Linked DNA regions of Homo sapiens. The protein of the gene in region 1 purifies or fractionates together with the protein of each later gene. This does not show direct contact. Each region holds a gene or a part of one and is shown in the gene's direction. Other genes may lie near its edges. The genes, in order: MYL4, UBE3B, OSBPL11, OSBPL9 and CAMKK2.

Region 1 (2,574 bases):
ACAGGCAGTACTGATAACAGCTGACTTTCCAGCGGTCTTATCACTTTGTAAAGTGCTTCCACACACTGCGACCTCCCTTTGCTCTCACAGTGACAGGCCCAGGGAGTGGGGTGTAGTTGTCACTCCCTTTGTGTGCACATGAAGCTGAGACCCAGCCCAGCTTATCCTGCACTCTGAGGCAGAGCCAAGATGAGAATTTAGGAATCCTCACTTCTGGGCCAGTGCTGTTTTCACTTGTCTGTCATTTCAGGAGTCAGGAACCTCACCTACACCAGAGCGGGATGTGTGGGTGGGAGGGGTGGAGGCCAGGGAGACATCTGAATTTTTTTTTTGTTTCAAGATGGAGTTTCACTCTGTCACCCAGGCTGGAGTGCAGTGGTGCGATCTTGGCTGACTGCAACCTCTGCCTCCCGAGCTCAAGCGATTCTCGGGCCGCAGCCTCCCAACACTGGAATTTTATAACAACGAAGCAATAGAAGAGATCCCAGTCCCAGCCCTGGAATGGGTCGTGGAGGCACCAGGCTGCTTCTTTGGTTGACAGAAGATGGGATGAGGACGGGTTCGAGGGACGGCCTGGGATAATGGACAAAGCGAAATATTGGGATATTTTAACAACCACACTCACCTGCTATTCAGCTTGGGTGGAGGCTGATTGGCCACCAGCCACCACCTTCACTGGGGATTGGAAGGTATAGCTGGGTCTTCTCTCCACAGAGTTCAAAGAGGCCTTTTCATTGTTTGACCGGACCCCGACTGGAGAGATGAAGATCACCTACGGCCAGTGCGGGGATGTACTGCGGGCCCTGGGCCAGAACCCTACCAATGCCGAGGTGCTGCGTGTGCTGGGCAAGCCCAAGCCTGAAGGTCAGTGCGGCTGCATGGCAGACCTCTCCCAGGGTCAGGCTTGCAGCCCCTTGGCTTCCTCCTTGTCCAGATCTTCTCTGCCATCTGCACTCTCTCTTCTCCTGCTTTAGCCCCTCAGGACCAGCCTCACCTACCCAGCTTACCCTAGTCCCATTTTGAGAATTTATCTAGACGTCCCCGTACTTAAGTGACCCTTGAGGAATGTAGCCTGGGCTTGTTTCCCTCACGAGGTTGGGAGCTCCTGTGGGGCATGAGCCACATTCTGTTGCCTCAGTGTCTGAGGAAGGCTGAGTGGGAATCTGGAAATCTGATAACTGATGGTTCCCACTCCCCAGCCCAGGAGCTCTCAGGAGGGGCATCTGTCACAGCACCGAGGTATCCTGTGGTGGCCATCGCGAGCTGTATTACAAACAATTTGTTTCTAATAATGGTTAGAGTACTGACGTTTGCAAATTGTTTGGTATAAATTAGAGCAGCTTCAAGATTCTTAGCTCTACGTGCTGCCTCTTTCATTCATTTGCATTTCAATAGGTTTTGGTGAGTGAGTGTTTAGAATGGTGAGTAAGTGTTTAGAAAGTGGTGCAAACGATTCTTTTGTGGCTCCTAAGTGTGATCATTGAGTGTTCATACTCATGTGAGCTGTGCCTCTGTCAATCATTACGGCAGATGAGAAGAGGTGTGAGGGAGTGTGTCCTGTTTGTGAATGTTGTCTGTCATGTGTGCCAGTCAAGTTAACAGCTGCTCTAAAACACACACACATGCTTCTCCTCAGTGGTGTTGGCACGGGGTTTGGGGTGGGGTGAGCCTCTCAGCAAGGGTGGTCTGTCTCTGGAGGCTTCCTGGGCCCCATAGTGGTTTCCTCCCCATCCCTTGGTTCTGGCCCGTCCCCCTTCTCCTCTGGCTGAAGGTAACCGCGGGGGTGAAGGATGTGGGCAGGAAAGGACCAGAGGGCTAGGGGCTTGCATCTCAGAAGTCAGAAGCAAGTCCTGTGTGCTTATAAAAGAAAGAAATGCCCACATTTGTGATATTTAAAAATAGTTTGCCTCTATTAAATTAAAGCCTTTTAAATACACTACCATGTGGGAGAAGTATGCTATTCACAAGAGAACTGTGAATTTATAAGAATTATTGATTCAGAGTAGCTTCAAGCTGTGTGGTCTAGTGATGGGACCCCATGCAGAGTGATGCAAACGTTGCTTTTTTCAATCCTGTTGGTTTGCCCCTGTGATTATAGGTCTGTCACGTCAAGGGTCTAAACTGAGTGTGAGGCCCGGGCCGCGTGGCACTTCAGACCCCTCACATCCTGCTGCTGCCACCCTCAGCTCCTCCGCTTGGCTGGCCACCTGGTGCTTAGAGGTCTGGGTGGAGGGCTCCTTTTTCCTTCCATCCTACTGCTTTCACTGAGAAAAGAGGGCCCCTGAGACCATCTCCCCAGCTCCCAGTCCCCTACCTTGCTTGGATGGGAAGCTCTGTGTCCTCTAGGAGCACTAATGGGTGTACCACCCAGAATTGGCTGCAGCCCAAGCCCTGGGTGCTGTCAGACTTGGGGTGAGGCCCCCTCTTGACCCTCTGCTCCCTTGAGCACCTGCTCACATTGATTTCTCTTTCTTTACCCTGCCTGCCTGAAGAGATGAATGTCAAGATGCTGGACTTTGAGACGTTCTTGCCCATCCTGCAGCACATTTCCCGCAACAAGGAGCAGGGCACCTA
Region 2 (3,658 bases), on another chromosome or scaffold:
CGCCTCGCCCTCACCGTCTCCCATTTTCTCCTCACATGGTCTCTCTGTGGGAGGGTGTCAGCTGCTGCTCTGTTCCTCTTAACAATCCCACAGGAGACCTGCCTCTCGGGGACGCCTCACCAGTGCCCTGGCTGGGCATTTGTGCTGTTCCTACTCTGCAGTCACACGTGCTCTCACAAGTGGCCAGTCGCACCTATTGGGTATGGGTTTCATGTGTCTTAGTCCCCGAGAGCAGCACCCTTGAGAGAGATGTACGGCGTGTGCCAGTTTTGGGGCCAGATCCACCCCGCCACTCCATACGGCTGGCTAGACAGCAGTTACAACACGGTAACAGACAGAGCAAACACGTGCTACACAGCTGCAAGGGCCCGTCCTGGAAGAGCAGGAGCCTGCCCCGTCCCCACTGACCCTGCTTTGTGTTGCAGTTCGTGACCAGCTGCTCCAGACCCCCGCTCCTGGGATTCGCCTACCTCAAGCCTCCATTCTCCATCCGCTGCGTGGAGGTGTCGGACGATCAGGTACCCCCACGGGGTGGGTGGGGAAGAGCCTTGACTTCCCTCTTGGTGGTTGTCTGCTGTGCCCACTGTGCAAGGCCCTTATCTAGTCCATATCTCAGCAAGGCAGGCAGCTGGACCCCTCAGAGCCAAGTGAGGAGGGCCCCACAGTTCTCACGGCAGGAGAACCAGCCAGCCCCAGAGAGACTGCCCACGGACTCAGCCCTCTCTCGGCAGCCCCTTTCTCTTTCCTTCCTCAGGGAAGGGTACCTGGAGTGGGGGTGGGTACGTGCTGTTTTTAGTGGCGTCTGGCCTCACCAGGGCTCCAGATCTGAGGCAGCATGGGAGAAAGTGAGAGAGTGGGCTCAGGAGGCAGGCAGGCGCAGACTCGAATGCTACTCCTACCCCAGCAGGCTGTGCACGTCCAGGCTCGCTGCTTCATTTCCTCATTGGCCAAAGGAGAAGGAAAGCCTTCAGGGTTACGGAGCTCTGTGTGTCTCAAGCCTGGCCCACTGTGGGTGCTCAAATGAGAGTCCTACTCCCCATAAAAACCCAGTGGCCGCCTCTGGGTGTAGCTGCCTCTCATGATGCAGTTTGAGCCCGTGATGCCACCTTGTACAGGAAGCTACACAGTCCTCGGCCTCCATGCTTAAGGGAAAGTTGGCCCAAGTCATGGTCTGCCACCGGCCACAGCACCGGTGAGGAGGGAGGAGTGCATTCAGAAATGTTTGGGCACCTAACAGTTTTTACAGCATTCTACTTTTTGTCAATTGGTTAACCAGTAATTCGCTGTGAACCGGAAGGCCCCATTTCCAAAAGCTTACTTAGTGCAGGAATTCTCTGTGCAGGCCCCAGGGAGAAGGGGTTCCTTCTCTGGAAGCCAGTCGTCTTGTGTCTGGGGCTTGACCTCGGGTAGTGGTGCCAGGGCAGCGCCCTGCACTCTGCCCAGCATCCAGGGACTGGCCAGATCCCCTCCCTGGGCTCCCTGGCCTTGGCATCAGCCTGGGCTCCCAAACTAGGCCCTTCCCAATTCAAGGCCACGATGTGTGCCTTCAGGACACCGGGGACACTCTGGGCAGCGTCCTCCGGGGCTTCTTCACCATCCGCAAGCGGGAGCCAGGCGGCCGCCTGCCCACCTCCTCCACCTGCTTCAACCTGCTCAAGCTGCCCAACTACAGCAAGAAGAGCGTCCTCCGCGAGAAGCTGCGCTACGCCATCAGCATGAACACGGGCTTTGAACTCTCCTAGCTCCTGTCCCAGCCCTGCCTCCAGGGCTCCTGGGCTGCCAGGGACCTTCAGCTCCCAGAGGCAGTGTGGTCCTGGGAATGTGACCAACATGCCAGGTGACATTGGCCCCTAGACCCTCTCTATAGCCATGAGACTCCTTGTGGCCTCAAGAAATTTAGACGCCCACGACAGCACTACACAGCATCTCCAGGTGATGCCCAAGGCACAGGGCTGCAGAAAATAAACCTCCAGATTCCACCAACACGGGTCCATTCTTCCTGGTGATGGCAGAGGGGCTTCTTTTAGCTAGTTTGATCTTTTGGGAGTCTGTCTTTCCTTAGCCGTCTGAGTGAGCTGTGTATGAACAAGTCCCAGGAGTTCCAAGAGTCTAGAGTGGTTTTTGCAGCATGGGTTGAGTGTACAAAGCCTACTGTGCGTGAGATCCTCTCCTTCCGTTTCTGAAATCTCTTACTCAGGTAAGGCCTCGCCAAGCCTCTATGCACCCCACAAAGTTTCTGCCTCCATGCCGTCCACAGCGCCTCTTCCCAGACAGCCAGGCCCATCTGCTGCCCAGGGAAGCGCAGGCGCCTGCTAGGGACGCTATGGACACCGTGAGTCCAAGGCGCTGCTCCTGCCTTGAAGCCACGCGCTCCACGCCGCGGCCCTCCCATTTTCTGCGTCCTCAGCGGGCTGAGCTGCCAGAGAGTCTTCCCGGACCTATTCCCGTCCTATGCATTCACATTGGCATCCTGGTTTGGGGGAAGAAAAACAACGGCCCTTAGCAGCAGCCCCGTTTCCAGAATGTGCTGCCTGTTCCCCAAAGCCTGCTTGTCCCGCGGAGGACGGCTGCCTTTGACCCTGCTTATTTGTCTCACTGGTTATCTAATGAGGAACAAACACTAACCTAAGGTACACATCCCATCTGGGCGGTGGCTTCACTCCTGAGTCTGCAAAATCCCAGGAAACTTGGGTCTTGCTGCCCATCCTTCCTCAGCACAGGGAACCCGGAAGCCCGTTGCACTGACAGAGGCTCACACCCTCTGGGTTTTTTGTTTTTTTTTTAAACTTCATTTCTCTTCCAACCCATTGTGTTCCTCTGCCCTCATTCTTTACCTTTGTTGTAAGAACTTTAGCTCCAGGGAACTGAGGCAGAGGCCCTGTTTGTGGTCTGTGTTGACAGCCACCCACCCTCTCCCACCTCATGCTCCTGCACCTGCACCACCAAGGTTGATGCCGGATTCGAAGCCAGGAAGGCCCAGTCCCTCCTCTGCTCTCCTCAAAGACGCAAAACATTTTCCAACAAGAGCTGTCACAGTGGCAGCAAAGCAGGGGCCACCCGTCTCCACAGTCCTTCAGAGTTTCAGCTGCATCCTGGTGTCCCACCCAGGTCGAGCCCCCAGGCTTCTGGAAAAGAGTGTGTGCTCTACTTTGATGGAAACATGGCAAGGAATTTAAAGACAGGAATGTATTAATATTATTGAAGGTGTGTTCGTAACCTCTGATTCTGTGGACTTGCCACTTTCTCCAAACGCTCGGTTCCTTTGAAGATTTCTTCTGAACGTGTGTGCGCACGCTGGGCGGGTTCGTGCATACATGCGGGGACCCCAGACTGTCAGCACAGGGAAGATGGATCCCATCCTAATTTTTATCACCTGAAGGTTGGAACCAGTGAGGGACTGGGAGAGAGTGATTTATAAGCACCAATATCAACTTCATGTGGATTTTTGACAAGGAGGGGTAGTTTGTAATTTCATTTAAATTCTTTTCAGCAGCTGGAAATATTGCACTATCTGAAACACTGAATCTCCTTTTGTAACTGGTGTTCACTGACACCTTGATGGCTCTTGATGGCTCTAAAAAGTTGTAGGATTTTTTGTTTTTGTAGCTAACTTATGGATTGAGATGTGATCAAAGGCTTTATTAAATTTGTACTTCAG
Region 3 (3,658 bases), on another chromosome or scaffold:
GTCTCGAATTCCTGACTTCAGGTGATCTACCCGTCTTGGCCTCCCAAAGTGCAGGGATCACAGGCGTGAGCCACCACACCTGGCCACCCAACATGAATTTTAAAAGTTTAAAACTTTTTAGAGTTACTTTTTATTTTATATTAATTAATTAATTAATTATTTTTGAGACAGGGTCTTGCTCTGTTGCCCAGGCTGGAGTATAGTGGCATGATCTCAGCTCACTGTAACCTCCACCTCGGGCTGAAATCATCCTCCTGCCCCAGCCTCCTAAGTAGCTGGAGCTACAGGCATGCACCACCACACCCATCTAATTTCTGTATTTTTTTTTGTAAAGACAGGGTTTTGCCATGTTGGCCAGACTGGTCTCGAACTCCTGGATTCAAGCAATCTCAACTCATCCAGCCCTTTTTAGAGTTACTTTTTTTTTTTTTTTTTTTTTTTTGAGATGGAGTCTCACTCTGTCACCTAGGCTGCAGTGTAGTGGTGCAATCTCAGCTCACCGCAACCTCTGCCTCCAGGGTTCATGTGATTCTTCTGTCTCAGCCTCCCAAGTAGCTGGGATTACAGGTGCACGCCACCTCGCCCAGCTAGTTTTTTGTATTTTAGTAGAGACGGGGTTTCACCGTGTTGCCCAGCCTGGTCTCAAACTCCTAAGCTCAGGCAGTCCACCCGCCTTGGCCTCCCAAAGTGCTGGGATTACAGGTGTGTGCCACCGTGTCTGGCCTAGCGTTCCTTTTTTAAAAAGGGGCCAGATGAGGTGACTCACACCTGTAATCCAAGCACTTTGGGAGGCCGAGGCGGGAGGATCGCCTGAGTTCAGGAGTTTGAGATCAGTCTGGCCAACATGGCAAAACTCCATCTCTACGAAAAATACAAAAATTAGCTGGGCATGGTGGTGGGCGCCTGTAATCCCAGGTACTTGGGAGCTGAGGCATGAGAATCGCTTGAACCTGGGAGGCAGAGGTTGCAGTGAGTCAAGGTGGTGCCACTGCACTCCAGCCTGGGCAACAGAGCACGACTCCATCTCAAAAAAAAAAAAAATTATTACACTACTTAAATTGGAATTTCTGAAATGTATTTTTGAAAGTAGTTAATCTAGAACCAAATCAGAATTTTTTTTTCCAAAGTGTATTAGTATTTCATCAAATTCTTTTCCAGAGTGTATCAGCATTTCATCATTTAGTTTCAAGGTCCTTATGTTTCAGCATCTCCAATTGCAGCTTTTTCATTTTTAAACAGGAGAAGTAATCTTTAGTTTTGACTTATTTAATGATTCATTCACAAAATCTTTTTTACCCTGTTATTCTTGTTGTATATTTCACTAATTCTTAAATCACAATGCATATCTTGCCTAGTATATCTTGCCTTAACCTCAGAGCTCATATTTTGATTTATTTCCGGTGAATTTTAAAGAAAAATTTTCACTACCATTTGTCCTTTGGCAGTTTACCCTCTGTTAATGAATTCTGGGGAAAAATCTGTCTCTGAAAGGATATGGTATCTTTGCTTCCTTTTGTGCATTAACTGATAGGCCTCTTAATAAATGCCTCTCCCTCAGCTGAAGGGTTTATTATATCTTTTATTAAACTCATTCAATTTTTTTTTTTTTTTTTTTTTTTTTTTGAGACGGAGTTTTGCTCTTTTTGCCCAGGCTGGAGTGCAGTGGCTCGATCTTAGTGCAGTGCAACCGCTGCCTCCCAGATTCAAGCGATTTTCCTGCCTCAGCCTCCCGAGTAGCTGGGATTACAGGCATGCACCACCACACCTGGCTAATTTTGTATTTTTAGTAGAGATGGGGTTTCACCATGTTGGCCAGGCTGATCTCGAACTCCTGACCTCAGGTGATCCGCTCGCCTCTGCCTCCCAAAGTGCTGGGATTAGAGGCGTGAGCCACTGCGCCTGGCCTAACTCATTCGATTTTTAGTAATCTTCCCTGCTGGAAAATTCAGTGTAGTGTTTCCAGGTACCTCTTGAAATGCTTTTAAATTTTATTTTTAAGAGCAAAACCCTGAAATGTGTAAGTGATTGAAGTTTGCTTTGCTTTAGTTTGCTGAGGGAAAATGTTTACAAATTATGGATTTTAAAAAATCATTACAGGTTTTTTGTTTTAAACAATGAAGCTGGGCTGTTGGAGTACTTTGTGAATGAACAGTCTAGAAATCAGAAACCTAGAGGAACTTTGCAGCTTGCAGGAGCTGTAATATCACCCAGTGATGAGGATTCTCACACCTTCACTGTAAACGCTGCCAGTGGGGAACAATATAAACTCAGAGGTATGACCAAAATATGAGAATTAATACTGTGATTTTCCTCTTTTTTTGAGAAGTTGGTGTCTTACATGCTTTCATATGGGCTTTGGAAATAGAAACTGCTGTCATCAGTGATGTAAATACAATATTCTGAACCTTGGAACTGCTTTGAGAATTTATGAAATCTTTTGTAATAAGTAACTGTTTTCAAGTGGGACAATGTATGTTTGTTTAGGACTGGCCCCTCTGAAAAACGGTGTAGGTGAAACTCTGATTACTGAAAATCTAGAAACATAGACTTTAAATGATATTTTTTATGTATTTCACCCCTTTACTTGGTTTAGTTTACGTGCCCTTTTTGCAGTTTTCAGTAACTAATGTACATTATTGGGATTTATTATAATGTCATTCATTAAAATAACGTATAACTTCTGTTAAGATAAATTTAATTTGTGTAGAAGTTTTTTATTTAATGAATACACAAAGTATAATGGTAATCCTAAGTGAGCGTGCTCCTGCAGATCTGAAAGTATTGATTATACATCAAATAATTAAGGGGTTATTTCTTTAAATAAGAACCTATTTTTATGAGTTGCAACATGTCAGTCTCTCATCCTCACCTCACTGCATGTAATTTCTCCTTTTAATGAAGTAACTACATCCAGCTACTGTGTTCCCTAACAACGTTGGTGCTTTGGCCTCTTTCCTGCCTCCCTCCAGTCAGGGAAGTTTGCTCTAGTGAGAGTAAGACCAGTATCTGCTTTTCAGTGATCTGATCTTCATACTGTAGGCAATTAATTGTGTTCCAGAATAAATAAATATAAAATAATTTTTACATTCTTTTAACAGCTACAGATGCAAAAGAGCGACAGCACTGGGTTAGCAGACTTCAGATATGTACACAGCATCATACTGAAGCTATTGGAAAGGTATGTAGATTTATATACAATATTAATATACAAAAATGAGGAAGGAATATTTTTTATTTTTTGCCTTTTAAAATTGAGATACTATTCATATACCGTAAAATTCACCCTTTTAAAGTATATACGTATAATCCTGTGGTTTTTAGTATATTCACAAGGTGGTTCAACCATTGTAACTTTCTTTTTTTTTTTGAGACGGAGTCTCTCTCTGTGGCCCAGGCTAGAGTGCAGTGGCGCAATCTTGTCTCACTGCAACCTCTGCCTCCCGGGTTCAAGTGATTTTCCTGTCTCAGCCTCCCAAGTAGCTGGGACTACAGGCACACACCACCACACCCAGCTTATTTTTGTACTTTTAGTCAAGACAGGTTTCTTTACTAAAAAAAGTTGTTTCTTTACTAAAAATGTTGGCCAGGCTGGCCTCGAACTCCTGACCTCAAGTGATCCGCCCACCTTGGCTTCCCAAAGTGCTGGAATTACAGGTGT
Region 4 (4,424 bases), on another chromosome or scaffold:
AGTTTTTCCCTCTCTTGAAAATCAGCAAAGTAATATTCTCTAGTGTCTTCGATCTAAATAATAATTTTAAAAAAGGACAAAGAAAGCCCTTCCCTTGACCACACCTCCGTTTCCAGCTAGTGCCTCATCTTTTAGTTTCCTTTTTAGCTCTTTCTCTTGATATTTGCACGGCTGGCCTTTTCTTATCCTCCATATCTAAGTTTAAAGCCACTTCCTAAGAGGCCTGCCCTATAACCACCCCCTATAAATTAGCTACCCACTGACTTCCTATTAAAATAATTTATTAAATTATTTGCAGTGTTAATCAGTATTGGATATTTTTCTTGTTTACTTGTTTAGTGTTTGCTTTCACCACAGAATTTAAGCTCTGAGAGAGCTTATTCACTGCTGTATTCCCAGGACCTCCAACAGTGCCTAGATATAGTAGGTGGTCAATAAATCCTTTGGTTTTTTTTTTTTTTTTTTTTTTTTTGTGTGAGAGAGAATTTGGCTCTGTCACCCAGGCTGGAGTGCAGTGATGCAATCTCGGCTCCGAGGTTCAAGTGATTCTTGTGCCTCAGCTAGGACTACAGGGTGCGCCACCACGCCCAGATAATTTTTGTATGTTTAGTAGAGATGGGCTTTTACCATGTTGGCCAGGCTGGTCTCGAACGCCTGATCTCAAGTGATCTGCCTGCCTCGGCCACCCAAAGTGCTGGGATAACAGGTGCGAGCCACCGCGCCCAGCCAATAAATGCTTAAATTGCCCCTGTAGGCTGTTAGTGATCTATCCCTACTTCTTTGACCTTATCTCCCACCACTTTCTCCCTGGCTCACTGCTCCACGCACACTGACCTCCTTGTTGATCCCTCAAGATGCCACGCTCACTCCTAACATTTGGTCTTTGCATTTGCTATTCCTTCGTCTTGGAAGGCTCTTCCACCAGGCTCCCTCCTTCGCTTTCTTCAGGTCTTTGCTTAAAAGTTACCTTTTCACTCAGGCCTTCCCTGTTTGGGAATTTAAAATAGCAGTCCCAGCGCTCTCTCCTTCCTTGCTTATGTTTTTCTCCATAGCATTTATGATTTTTTAATGTACGATATAATTTACTATTTATTTTACCATTCCCCTCACCTGTCATGAAGGCTCTGTTGTATCCCCAATGTCTAGAAGAATGCCTAGCACAAAACAGCGAATATTTATTAAATGAATGGATTTGTGGAATGAATGCATAAATGAATATCAGATATGAAATCTTTTGGAAGTGGAAGGTATCATGGCCAGTAAAATTATTTATTAATATGTTCATAATCTTTTTTCTTTACTCTAATCCCATGACAGATTATAAATAATCTTAATAGCAGTATTCACGTTTGCATTCTCGCATCCGTGGCATGGAGTCCTACACACAATAGGCGCCCTAAGAAAGCGTGTTTGACTTGATCGCTGGAGCATCTGCCGGCACCGCCCAGGACCCGCCCAGGACCCGCCCCGCCCCCTGCGGCCCCGCCCCCCGCATGCTGAATGCCATATAGGCGAGTGACGTCAGGCCGTTTGTTGTCATTGGCGGCTCCCAAGATGGCGTCCATCATGGAAGGGCCGCTGAGCAAATGGACTAACGTGATGAAGGGCTGGCAGTACCGTTGGTTCGTGCTGGACTACAATGCAGGACTGCTCTCCTACTACACGGTGAGTCCTTGGAGGGCACAGCTCCAGGCGCCTCGGGGCCGCGTTTCCTGGGTGGAGGTGGGGGACCGGGGTTTTAGGTGGCTGAGTTGAGGTTGCTAGTCTGGGGGTGCCGCCGTACGCGAGGGTTCCCTTGTTGGGGAGGGTTTTACGTCTCGGATAGCCAATGAGGGTGAGGGAGAGAGGGGCGCAGCCAATAAATAGAAACTAGCTGTCTGATTTATGGGTTGGGGGTGAGCCAAGTTTCTTTCTTAGGGTCCGCTATTAAGCGGTAGTGGGGTCCAGCATGGTTGTGAGCGGGTAAGGGTGATCGTAGTCATGGCTTAAAAGGTCCAGTCTTGCGGTTCATGCTGTCTTCATATGTTGTCATGGACTTTACACTGTCCCACCAAGGCCCTGTAGCCGGCCGCACCCCTTAGCTTCCCTCCAGGGATTGAAGAGCTCTGCTTCCTCGGAGGAGTGGCCAGAGGAGCCGGGACAGGTCCAAAAGTGACCAGCCCTCGGGCAACACCAGGGGGTCCGAAATCCCTCCAGTCGGTTCAGGTTGTGTGTCTCATTCAAGGGACGCACCCCTCTATTTAGCGGGAGGCGAGCTCAAACGACGCCTTAACTTTTGAGAGCCAAGGATTTCCTACACGCGAGACTCTTGTCAGCGAAGAGAGACAAGTGATAGTGCAGTGTCCCCTTACAGTTACATTCTGGGTTCAGGGCTTCACTGTTGTTAACATGAGTTGGTGGCCGTGGAAAAGTAGATGAATTGCTGTGAATCTTACGTGGTTGTGTGTGTGTGTGTGTGTGTGTGTGTGGTTTTTTTTTTGAGACGGAGTCTCGCCCTGTTGCCCAGGCTGGCGTGCAATGGCATCATCTCGGCTCACTGCAACTTCTGCCTCTCGGGTTCAAGCGATTCTCCTGCCTCTGGCCTCCCTAGTAGCTGGGATCACAGGCATGCGCCACCACACCCTGCTAATTCTTGTATTTTTAGTAGAGACGGGGTTTCACCATGTTGGCCAGGCTGGTCTTGAACTCCTGACCTCAGGTGATCCACCCGCCTCGGCCTCCCAAAGTACTGGGATTACAGACGTGAGCCACCGCGTCCGGCCTTGAATCTTATGTTTTGACTATCCCCTCCACCCTCATCGCATTCGATATGGAGAGTAGGTGGTATTAGGGAGATAACTTACTTAGAAAGGTACTTTCTCTGAATGGTGTATAGTTGACGATAGCCGATATGAGGGAAGAAAATACATAAGAGGACAAAATAGAATGCCCAGAAAGCTTTAGAAAATAATAGAAGACAGAAAGAAAAACATGATTATGGAAGAAGGATTAAGGTTGATGAGAGAAAGGGGACACTGAATTTATTTGTTCATTTAAAAAATATTATTGAGCTGCTATGTGCGTTTTCATGCCAGCAAGAATAGACAGTAAAAAAGACATTCACTGTTCCTCTTCTCTGGAGCTTATATACTAGCTTGGTGAGTCCTTTAATTCATTTCACTCCTAATAACTCTGCAAGGTGGTTATTCATTATCTCCATTTAATATCCCCAGTTACAGTTTTGAAATCTGAGGCTCCAGGCTTTTAAAGCAATTTGCTCAACATCACATAGCACTAAGTGATGGAATCAGGATGCCAAATTATTGACTTTTTCTACTAAACTTCGCTTTCACTACAGGAAGGAGAAAAGTGTAAGTTGTGAGTTACTAAAGGCAAGCTTGCAAGAGTAAAAGTATTACTTTCATCATCCTTCAACTATCAGCTTTCTTTCTCTACATAGTTTTTAAAGGGAAAAAGACTAAACCTTAATGAGTCTTAAACACATTGTTCAAGATTGTCTTTAGGTGGGCATGAAAGAGAGGCAACTGAATATTATGTCCTGAAAACTCTGGAATTATGAAACCCATGGCTTAGATAAAGGAAAAGTAATATTGGGTTTAAGTAGATGTGATAATCAGAAAATCCCGTAAACTCTATTCAAGATAGAGTGATTTCAGTGAGTGACACTATGCAGTTAAGTTACTTTACAAATCCCAAATTTGTGTGGATCTGAATCTAGGACCATACTGGAGAGGCCCCCAGCTGAGGTTCTTGGGAATGCCTAGCCCAGAAAGAATCTTCCTTTTTCCTCTTTTTCTTCTTTTCATGTATCCTTTTTCTGCTTTGTTGCCCTTTCAGTTTTTGAATACTTGGACAAATATCTCTTTTCTTGCTGGCTAAATATAGGGTTTAAAAAAATACTTTTTTCCCCCTCAATGCTTATCCTTCTTTTTGAGACTAGATTCCCTAAAATATTATCCTTGCCAGAGGAAGGAAGTATCATATTTCTCACTAACAGCTGTTTAGAAGATTTTTTTTCTTTTCTAGTTCCTTGATATTGAAGTATTTGCTTACAGAGAAACAACAGACAATTGTTGTACCATCTTGTGAAAATAAAATGATACCCAATCTCAAATTAGAGGAGGTCTAGTGAAGAGGGGAAAAGGATAGATATTTACTTAAAAGGGAAGGTAGGAGACACATTGGATATTGGCAATGAATTCTACACACATGACATTATTTCAGTCCATTCGGATTCTGAAGGATTTGAAGGTACATATTAATGATTTGCATGTGGCTAATAACTTGGAGCTACATCTTCCAGGAAGAATATCTGAATTAGTTGTGTAGCCTTCCAAGCAAGGCAGTGAATAGCATAACTTTATTTCTTGTTTCCAAAATCACTTGGCCTGTAGTCTGTCTCTGTGGTTGTTAATATATTCTAG
Region 5 (4,397 bases), on another chromosome or scaffold:
CTGCACTCCAGCCTGGGCAACACAGAGAGACCCTGTCTCAAAACAAACAAACAAACAAACAAACAAACAAACAAAAAAAACAAAGAAAAAAAAATGGGAGTGGGCCGGGCGCGGTGACTCACACCTGTAATCCCAGCACTTTCGGAGGCCAAGGCGGGTGGATCACGAGGTCAGGAATTCAAGATTAGCCTGGACAACATGGTGAAACCCCATCTCTACGAAAAATACAAAAATTAGCCAAGTATGGTGGCCGGCGCCTGTAATCCCAGCTACTCGGGAGACTGAGGCAGAGAACTGCTTGAACCTGGGAGGCAGAGGTTGCAGTGATCCGAGATCGCGTCACTGCACTCCAGCGTGGGCGACAGAGCGAGACTCCGTTTCAGAAAAGAAAAAAAAAAAAAAAAAAAAGGGAGTCGGGGTGGAGCTCTCATTGGCTCGTTGCATGTGAGTGTCCCTACGGCCTAGAAATACAAGAGAAGCACATCGGAACGGGCTGGAAATCCACCCAGTTAACTAGAGGGCTTTGAACCTTTTATTAACTTGGAGGTTGACTCTCCTGTCAACTCGATTCCCTTTTGGCTGTTTGGCAGGGTCAGTGAGACATCCCCTGGGTCGCTCGACCCCGTAGGACGGTTCAGGGAGCCCTCCAGGTCTTCGTTTCTCCTCTTCCCCGCACAGTGCTGTTATCCAGCTGGGGGATCCAACGCACACTTAAGGCTCCAGCAAAGTAAGTGCCAAAAAGGGGAGAATGGGAAGAATATGCTGTATTTCACAAAAAGCATCTAAGTAGCCATCTGGAAAAGCCAGAATGAACTTCAATGGTGCATCCAGGTGGGCTGGGGATGGGAGAGGAACGCCTTCCCCCAGCCTTTAGGGCCGGCCCTGAGCAAGTGGTCAGTCGGCAGGCAGCTGCGGAAGGGGGCTCCCCCGAGTCGGTGGTGGCCCAAAGTCCAGGCCGCATCCACCGCCCGGCGCCTAGCGCAGGGGCAGCAGCCGGGTCGCCACAGGAGGGGCCCCGGGTGTTCTTGCCGGCTTGGGGGAACTTTCCCAGGGTCAGCCCGGAGGCGCCCTGCAGCCCCGGCATTTGGCTAAACAAAGCAAGCGCTGCCGGCGCGGCCCGCCCGAGGGCGCCGCGGGAAGAACCTGGGCAGGTGCGCGCCGCGGGCGAGCGGGTACAAAGTTGCGGCGCCACCTCCTGCGCTCCGCGCCCCTCCAGGCTCTCCTCCCAGCCGCCTCCGATCCTCCCGGCCGGGCCTCTCTTCCCCCGTTCTTCGCCTCCTCCCTTTCTGCTCCTTGCCCTTCGCCTCTTCGCTACTTTCGTCTTTGCAGGCTCCCGCCTCCCCACCCCTCCCCGGCGCAGGGCCGAGCCGGCGGGGGCGCGCAGGGGGCGGTGCGCGGCGGGCGCGGGCGGTTCCGCTTTCGGGTTTCCCGCCGCCGTGGCCAATCCCCGCGCTGCCCGGGGCGGCGACGCGCCCAAGCCGAGCCGGGCGGCTCCTCCCGCCCCCGCCCCCCGCGCGCCCGCCGCCCGGGCGGAGGAGAGGAGCGCGCGGCCGCGCAGAGCAAGCTGAGCCGAGCCGAGCCGAGCTGGGGGCGCAGAGCGCGGGAGGCGGCGGCGGCGCGGAGCCCAGGTGAGCTGGCGGTAGCCGGGCCCGGGGCAAGGGACGCAGCCGCCGCGGCCCCGGGCGCCCGCTCCGTTTCCCTCTCGAGGCGGGGGACCGCCGCCGGCATGGCACACAAAGCCCGGAGGCTGGCCTGGGGCTCCCAACACGGAGGGACCCCACGTGCGCCTCCCCACGCCCCGCCACGTGGAGGGACACGGTCCCCGACAGCCCTTCCCCCGCGTCCTCTGGGCGCCCTGGGCCTCGGGATGGCCTCCTCGGCTGGGCCGCGCCCTGTCCGGGTGGCAGGGGCGGTCCTGGAGTTTGGAACCGGGGTCACCGGGGGCCGGGTCCGTCAGGGTTCGTGGAGGCGGCCTAGGCCCAGCCCCTCGCGTTTGACAGGTGGGGAAATCTGGAGCGTTCCGGGGAAGAGAGGACCAGCGGACTTGGAGCACCCCCACCCCGCAGCCTGCCTGTCTCGGGGCAAACCCAGGCCCTGGTGGCTTGGACACCAGGTGGCAGGACCCTAGGCCAGCAGTTGTGGGGACCTAGGGGACCTTTGGCTGTCTTCGGTCTGCCCTTTGACCACCCCCACCGCACCTCTTCTCTCAGCCGGAGCCTCACAGGCTTGGTCCTTCTGACCTAAATTCACCTCGGGGTTGCAGTATGCTGTGAATGCGGAGAGGCGTCCGCCTGACTCTCAGGGACACTGGACCCAGCCCCTCTCAGCATTGGGGCTCTGTGCCTGGGGTGCCACCCGACCCAGCCTTGAGCTTTTCCTGGCTTTCCCCCAGCCCCTGCACTGCCTAGCTGGGGAAGTGGGTGCTTTCACAGCTCTGCCAGCCTGCCCTCCTGGCCACTCTCACTTAGTGCTGGACAGGATGCAGCTCAGCCCCTCCGATCTCCCCGAGAAGGCTGAGCTTTGGGGAGGGCGTCTCAGTGCTATCAGCAAGAGAGGGATACCTGGCCTCCGGATGGGACCTGCAGCGTCCATCTCCCTACAGGCTACTTTTACCTTCCCCAGCCTGGTGTTTGGAGTCTCCACGCAGGGGATAGAAACTTCAGGTGCCCTAGAGCTGTGCTGCCATTTACCACTCCCCCTCCCCTAGCTCTGCCCCCAGAGGAGAGAGAAGAGGATGGCTTTATGTCCCCATAAGCTCCTTTGTTCCTTGGAGGAGGCGGGGGCTGCAACAAGGGGAGGGCTTTGGGGGAGTTAGCCACCCTCTTCCCTAATCACCCCACAAAAACATGCAGTTTCAGAATAAATAGTGTGCATGCCATGCAAATGCAGCTTTAGGGCAAGCCCCACATACCCCTTCCAGACTGCTGCTCATACACCCTTCCTATGGAGGAAGCAGGCATTGGTGACACACACCCTTCCTATGGAGGAAGCAGGCATTGGTGATGAGGACGCAAAACATATTTTTGTAATGAAGAGTAATAGCCATCATTTGATGAGCCCCTAACTTGGATAATAATAAGAATACTTATTTATTTATTTTGAGACGGAGTCTCTGTTGCCCAGGGTGGAGTGCAGTGGCACAATCTTGGCTCACTGCAACCTCCGCCTCCCGGGTTCAAGCGATTCTCATGCCTCAGCCTCTCCAGTAGCTGGGATTACAGGCGCCCACCACCATGCCTGGCTAATTTCTGTATTTTTAGTAGAGAAGGGGTTTCACCATGTTGGTCAGGCTGGTCTTGAACTCCTTACCTCAAGTGATCCGCCTACGTCAGTCTCCCAAGTGCTAGGATTACAGGCATGAGCTGCCACCTGGCCCTGGACAATAATAATAATAACAGTATTAAAAACTAACATCTATTGAGTTCTTGCTGCCTGCCAGATTCTGTGCTATGTGTTACATGCATTATCTCATTTAATGCCTACCAAATCCTACAACGTAGGGAATTTTAACCCCATAGTAGAGATTAGGAGACTGAGGTTTACAGAAATCCTGCAGTGTTGCTAGGATTTAGCCCCATTTTATAGAAGGGCTCAGAGAAGTTAAGTAACTTGCTCAGGGTCACACAGCCAGTGCAGGCATGTCAGGCCTTAGAACCTTTGTGCACCTGTTCAAGAGCAGAGACCCTGGCAAGGCTGCCCTGAGCTTCTTGAGGAGCCCAGGAGTTTGTTTTGTTTTGTTTATTCACTACATCAGTGTTTGCCGATGCAGCTCTATGCAGGGTCTGTAGTACTGCCCATCCTTAGATATGGCTAGTGGGCTGGTAGCTAAATATAGTCACTAATAACAATGCACTAGTTCTCATCCGGGGGTGGTCCCACCCTCCTGGCAGGGATTTGGGAAAGTGTGGGGGCGACTTTTGGTTGTCAAAATGATGCTAAGCACTCCTGGCTTTTAGTGGGCGGGAGTCAGGGATGCCTACTAAAGTGTCCTGTAGGCAGGCCAGGGCCACGACATAAAGAATCACCCTCCCCTGGCTGGGCGTGGTGGCTCACGCTTGTAATCCCAGCACTTTGGGAGGCCGAGGCAGGAGGATCACCTGAGGTCAGGAGTTCGAGACCAGCCTGGCCAACATGGTGAAACCCCATCTCTACTAAAAATACAAAAATTAGCTGGGCGTGGTGGCACACACCTGTAATCCCAGCTACTTGGGAGGCTGAGGCAGGAGAATCACTTGAACCTGGAAGGCGGAGGTTGCAGTGTGCTGAGATCGTGCCATTGCACTCCAGCGTGGGGCACAAGAAGGAGACTTCCTCTCAAAAAACAAACAAAAAACAAAAAAAAATCACCCTCCCCCAAATGCCAGCAGTGCCACTGTTGAGAAACACCACAAGGAATG

Evidence for each region.
Region 2: the proteins of MYL4 (region 1) and UBE3B purify together in Homo sapiens (affinity purification with mass spectrometry; one large-scale study listed by BioGRID and IntAct). This does not show direct contact.
Region 3: the proteins of MYL4 (region 1) and OSBPL11 purify together in Homo sapiens (affinity purification with mass spectrometry; one large-scale study listed by BioGRID and IntAct). This does not show direct contact.
Region 4: the proteins of MYL4 (region 1) and OSBPL9 purify together in Homo sapiens (affinity purification with mass spectrometry; one large-scale study listed by BioGRID and IntAct). This does not show direct contact.
Region 5: the proteins of MYL4 (region 1) and CAMKK2 purify together in Homo sapiens (affinity purification with mass spectrometry; one large-scale study listed by BioGRID and IntAct). This does not show direct contact.

Annotation. Positions count from the first base shown.
Region 1 is NC_000017.11:47,219,190-47,221,763, forward strand, and holds part of MYL4 (myosin light chain 4), read left to right. Parts: intron 1-714; coding exon 715-864; intron 865-2,492; coding exon 2,493-2,574. UniProt on the Homo sapiens protein: Regulatory light chain of myosin. Does not bind calcium.
Region 2 is NC_000012.12:109,533,041-109,536,698, forward strand, and holds part of UBE3B (ubiquitin-protein ligase E3B), read left to right. Parts: intron 1-425; coding exon 426-518; intron 519-616; coding exon of another isoform or gene 617-796; exon of another isoform or gene 797-904; coding exon of another isoform or gene 905-1,024; exon of another isoform or gene 1,025-1,550; coding exon 1,551-1,742; 3' UTR 1,743-3,658. UniProt on the Homo sapiens protein: E3 ubiquitin-protein ligase which accepts ubiquitin from an E2 ubiquitin-conjugating enzyme in the form of a thioester and then directly transfers the ubiquitin to targeted substrates.
Region 3 is NC_000003.12:125,578,480-125,582,137, reverse strand, and holds part of OSBPL11 (oxysterol-binding protein-related protein 11), read left to right. Parts: intron 1-2,097; coding exon 2,098-2,273; intron 2,274-3,098; coding exon 3,099-3,178; intron 3,179-3,658. UniProt on the Homo sapiens protein: Plays a role in regulating ADIPOQ and FABP4 levels in differentiating adipocytes and is also involved in regulation of adipocyte triglyceride storage. Weakly binds 25-hydroxycholesterol. Interacts with OSBPL9 to function as lipid transfer proteins.
Region 4 is NC_000001.11:51,615,557-51,619,980, forward strand, and holds the start of OSBPL9 (oxysterol-binding protein-related protein 9), read left to right. Parts: upstream 1-1,554; coding exon 1,555-1,665; intron 1,666-4,424. UniProt on the Homo sapiens protein: Interacts with OSBPL11 to function as lipid transfer proteins.
Region 5 is NC_000012.12:121,293,869-121,298,265, reverse strand, and holds the start of CAMKK2 (calcium/calmodulin-dependent protein kinase kinase 2), read left to right. Parts: upstream 1-1,556; 5' UTR 1,557-1,628; intron 1,629-4,397. UniProt on the Homo sapiens protein: Calcium/calmodulin-dependent protein kinase belonging to a proposed calcium-triggered signaling cascade involved in a number of cellular processes. Isoform 1, isoform 2 and isoform 3 phosphorylate CAMK1 and CAMK4. Isoform 3 phosphorylates CAMK1D.